Linked DNA regions of Homo sapiens: region 2 is linked to region 1. Evidence: fine-mapped expression QTL. Tissue or cell type: skin. Region 1 holds a variant in brackets; the other region holds the start of a gene. All regions are shown on one strand. Distances are between the middles of the regions.

Region 1 (2,761 bases):
GTGGTGAACACCCACAGGGAGGTAGGCACCCCTGCATCTGCTAGCACTGTTACAGCTGCCACACCTTGGCACCTCCAGTGCAGTGGACTCCAAATGTCGCAGAGCCAGATAACAAAGCTGGGGCCCAATACAAGTCCCCCAGAGTAAGAGCACAGTCTAGCAGTTGGGAGCTGGGTGTTGGCCCCCTAAAATCTCCCCAAAATGAAGCCAGTCAGCTGAATCCATCTCATACCAAAATCAAACCCTCAAAGTCATCAAATAGGATTAAGAAAAAAAAAAAAACCATGCAAAGGTCAGCAACCTCAAAGATTGAAGGTAGATAAGCCCACAAATTTGAGAAAGAATCAGGGCAAGAATGCTGAAAATACGAAAAGCCAGAGTGCCTTCTTTCCTCCAAACAACCGCATCACCTTTCCAGCAAGGAATCATAACTGGGCTGAGGCTAAGATAGCTAAAATAACAGAAATGAAATTCAGAATATGGATAGGAATGAAGATCATTGAGCTCAGTACACTGAAACCCAATGCAAGGAAGCTAAAAATGATGATAAAACAATGCAGGAGCTGACAGACAAAATAGCCAATATAGAGAAAAACATAACTGACCTTAGAGAGCTAAAAAAACCCATTACAAGAATTTCACAACACAATCACAAGTATTAATAGAATAGAGTAACTGGAGAAAAGAATCTCAGAGCTTGAAGACTGGCTTTTTGAAATAAGACAGGCAGACAAGAATAGAAAAAAAAAAGAATGAAAAGGAATAAACAAAACCTTTGAGAAATATGGGATTATGTAAAGGGACCAAATCTATGACTGATTGGTGTCCTTGAAAGAGATGGGGAGAATGGAACCAACTTAGTAAACATACTTCAAGATATCATTCATGAGAACTTCCCCAACCTAGCTAGAGAGGCCAACATTCTTAAGATACTTCAAAAGAAGATTATCCCCAGTACACATAATCATAAGATTTTCTGAGGTCAAAATAAAAGAAAAAAATGTTAAAGGCAGCTAGAGGGAAAGATCAGGTCATCTACAAAAGGAAGCCCATCAGACTGACAGCAGACTTCTCAGCTGAAACCCTGTAAGCCAGAAAAGAATGGGGGCCAATATTCAACATTCTTAAAGAAAAGAAATTCCAACCCAGAATTTCATATCCGGCCAAACTAAGATTCATAAGCAAAGGAGAAATAAGATCCTTTTCAGACAAGCAAATGCTGAGGGAATTTGTTCCCACTAGACCTGCCTTACAAGAGCTCCTGAAGGAAGTACTTAATTTGCAAAGGAAAGACCATTACCAGCCTCTGTAAAAACACACTGAAGTACCCAGACCAGTGTCACTGTAAAGAAACTACATAAACAAGTTTGCAAAATAACCAGCTAACATAATGATGACAGGATTAAATCTACACATATCAGTACTAACCTTAAATGTAAATGGGCTGAATGACCCAATTAAAAGACACAGTGTGGCAAGCTGCATGAAGAACCAAGACCCATTATTATGCTGTCTTCAAGAGACCCATCTCCCATGCAGACACACACAGGCTCAAAATAAAGAGATAGAGAAAAACCTACC[A/T]AGCAAATGGAAAACAGAAAAAAGCAGGAGTTGCAATCCTAGTTTCTGACAAAACAGAGTTTAAGCCAACAAAGATCAAAAAAGACAAAGAAGGGCATTATGTAATGGTAAAGGGTGGAATTCAGCAAGAAAATCTCACTATCCTAAATATATATGTTCCCAACACAGGAGCACCCAGATTCAAAAAGCAAGTTCTTAGAGACCTTCAAAGAGATTTAGACTCCCACACAATAATAGTGGCAGGATTTACAGCCCCACTGACAATATTAGACAGATCATCAAGAAAAAATTAACAAAGATGTTCAGGACCTGAACTCCGCTCTGGATCAAGCAGACCTGATAGATATCTATAGAACTCTCCACCCAAAAAAACAGAATACACATTCTTCTCATCACCACATGGCATATATTCTAAAATAGATCACACAATCAGAAGTAAAATTCTCCTCATCAAATGCAAAAGAACTGAAATCATAACAAACAATCTCTCAGACCACAGCACAATCAAATTAGAAATCAAGACTAAGAAATTCACTCAAAACCATACAATTACATGGAAATTGGATAACCTGCTGCTGAATGACTTTTGGGTAAATAATGAAATTAAGGCAGAAATGAAGAAGTACTTAGAAAGTAATGACAACAAAGATACAACATATCAGAATCTTTGGGATGCAGCTAAGGCAGTGTTAAGCAGGAAACTTATAGCACTGAAATGTTCACATCAAAAAGTTAGAAAGATCTCAAGTTAACAACTTAATATAAAAACTAAAAGAACTAGAGAATCAAGTGCAAAGAAATCCCAAAACTAGCCGAAGACACAAAATAATCAAAATTAGGGCTGAACTGAAGGAGACTGAGACACAAAAAAGCCATTCAAAAGATCAATGAATCCAGGAGCTGGTTTTCTTGAAAAAAATAATAAAATAGATAGACCACTAGCTAGACTAATAAGAAAAGAGAGAAGATTAAAATAAACACAATCAGAAATGACAAGAAGGATATTATCACTTACCCTACAGAAATATAAACAACCATCAGAGAATATTATGAACACCTCTATGTACATAAACTAGAAAATCTAGGAGAAATGGATAAATGTCTGGACACATACACCCTTCCAAGAATGAACCAGGAAGAAATTGAATCCCTGAACAGACCAATAATGAGCTCTGAAATT
Region 2 (2,611 bases), 110 kb after region 1:
AGAGATGTGCAGGCAAAGCAAATCACAGCCTTACCAGCTGCAGATTCAGTACACGGCAGTCTATGTCTACATATTCATGGCACACTGGAGCCCTCCCCTGACTGTGCTCATACATGCATTGATATGGGAAGCAGAACTCTCTCACTGGGGAAATAATCTATGTGCCTAAGTTAGACAAGAGCCACATTTGGACCAGCGGATGGCATCACATCTGGTATGGATCGCTAACCTCAGTGTGATTTGGCCCAGCCTGGATTATTTATGATTCATAAAAGTCCCACTGGACCCCAGCATAGTCCAAGACCACATAACAAAAAACCATGGGATTAAAAATCTGTATTTCATTGCAAGACCCCCATGGCAAATTAGTAATGCTATGATTGGTTTTCGAGAAGCCAAGAGTGAGGAGAACTAACTATGATCACTCCCTCAAGAAACCCAGCATAGAGGGCAAACCGAATCATGTGTTCAGCCAGGCTATGCAGTCATATTCTGAAGCTCTGTCACCATTTCTAATCTGAAAGCAGTGTCTAAAATTAAACCTAAATAATTTGAAAGCCATTTCTTTACCTGGAAGTCTCAGCTGAGTCCTTGTTCCTCAGATCCCCTAATGGTTTCTGACATCATGTGTTGAAATGACTACTGTACATGAACGCTATCAGGTATTTGGTCTGTTAGCCCCTTTCCCCATATTATTATGGTTTTTTAAAGAAAGCTACACTTTTAGAGAAACGCTGCTTCTTCTTAAGCATCAAGATTTAAGCGTTTCTTCAGGACTCCCTAGAGCTGTGACATAACACTTTGTAATCGAGCTTTCTAATCAGCATAGAAAAGGCAAAAGGGGTCGCAGGGCCACCAAAAATGCTACCTGGCCAAGAAAACGAAGACCCAATATCCTCCCCCAGTGCAAAGGCCCTAGATCTGGCTTTCTCATCCTCCTTAGAAAATATACTGCTGTTTAATTTGTGAATTAGAGCAAATTTCTTACCCACCTCCAGGGAGGATGAAATGCCCAGTCTCGGAGGAAGCTTCTGCCAGACCCTTGGAGCTTGTCAATTGTCCCAGTTCACTTTCTCCCTGGATCTGACTTCTAAGAACGCAAGCAGGACCTCAGGCAGCCAAAGCATCTTCTCCTCAAACCCCCTTTTCAGTCTGAACCCTTCCTGAAGCTGGCAACAGACTCAAGCCGAGCTGCTCCACATTCCCTCAGGGAAAACAGCACTGCTGGATCCAGACTCTGCTGGGGAATTCACCAAGCAAGAGAAAAAAAGTATGACTTCTACTCTTCCTCTAGATCAGCCTGAGTGCTCAGATCGCCTTCCGGAGGACCCCCAGTTTCCTCTTAACTCCCCTTCTTCATGACAATCTGAAGGAAGAAGTCATAGACTCCAGCCCAGCGTCACCAGCTGATCCTGAGCCAGACCCGGGGTGACTAGTCAGCTGCTCACAGAGCTCAAGCCACTGAACCAGGAAATGTGCTGCTTGGTCAAAAAATAATAATAACTCTCGGTGGCGCTGCTGGTGGTGCCTGAGAAGTCGCTGTTGCAGTGCTTGCATCCTCCGCATGCTAATGAAGCTGTGATGTCAGCAAGTCAGTCACGGCATCTGGACGTCCCATCCTGCTGCCCAGTGCTGAGATTTATTTACATGTAAATTAGCCTTGCCTTCCAAATCAATAATCCCCAAGCCAGGGAGAGGGGAAGGAAGCCTTTGCTGGATGCAAAGGCCCAGCTACGTAACCTCCAAATGAGCATGAAAAAAATCACATATAAGAAGAGAGGCTTTAAAGACACATGCCTATTTTTTTTCTTCTTAAAAGCTGTGCTCTTAGGTGCCAAGGTTCAGATCTGGGCACAATTATCAACCTGAGCGCCTGTTTCAGATTATATGCTGCACCAACCTAGGAGTGGAATCAGAGCACTCTTTTTTTAATTAAATGCTGTGTCAAGCCTTCAAAAATGCCTCTCCTTTTTTTTTTTCTTTCTCTTCTCTCTTCAACTTTCATTTTCGGGTGTTGCTTGTTTTTTGGCCTGAGACTATGTCACCTTTGAGTTTTTGTGCACCTCGAAATAAAGCACAAGTGACTCCTTTCCTCACGTGCTTGGGTGGTGAGTCAGTCAGCTGCCCTTTAACCCCTTACCCCAATTCCAACTGCATGCAGAAGAAGACAAAGCATAAACCTTCCCAGGGCATCTGAAGACCCTGAGACCCTCAGAGAGCATTGCTTCCATCTCCTCATTTTACAGATTAGAAAATGGAGACAACTGGAGAAAGGACTTTTCTAAAGTCACACCAGGATTTCAGCAAGGATGGGTCAGAATCCACATTTCCTAGACCTCAGATAGAGCTTTTGTTGAATACCTTTGGGGTCTCCGAGCTCCATTTTTATACACCACTAGGCGGCCTAACCAAGCAATCTGGAAGAAAGGAATCTATACATTTGGAGAGCCCTGTGTTCAAATCCTGCCTTTCCTTCCTGCTAGCAGTGTGATCTTAGGCAAGTAACTTAACTTGTGGGATCTTCAATAACCTCATCTGTACCATTCACTCATTCAATAAATATTTACTAAGCACGTACTCTATGCCATGCACAGCTCTAAAGGCTAGGTAT

Direction of the effects. Alleles are on the strand shown, and positions count from the first base shown. SD is a standard deviation of normalised expression in the study named.
For the expression in skin of the gene that starts at base 1,549 in region 2, T is the low allele of the variant in region 1 and A is the other (moderate effect, 0.47 SD a copy in TwinsUK).

Evidence for each region. PIP is the estimated chance that this variant, and not a neighbour inherited with it, causes the effect.
Region 2: PRICKLE2 starts here. The variant in region 1 is fine-mapped to the expression of PRICKLE2 in skin (TwinsUK, PIP 0.95).

What each region holds. Positions count from the first base shown.
Region 1 is chr3:64,113,930-64,116,690 of GRCh38, forward strand. The region is part of intron 7 of PRICKLE2 (prickle planar cell polarity protein 2); the gene reads right to left. Among named protein-coding and RNA genes, the nearest start is that of PRICKLE2-AS2, 12 kb to the left of the region's middle. The variant A/T (reference allele first, on the strand shown) is at 1,582.
Region 2 is chr3:64,223,918-64,226,528 of GRCh38, forward strand. It overlaps PRICKLE2 (prickle planar cell polarity protein 2), which reads right to left and starts at 1,549. Exons shown (of 8, transcript NM_198859.4): 1 at 993-1,549. RefSeq lists a silencer at 1,436-1,730.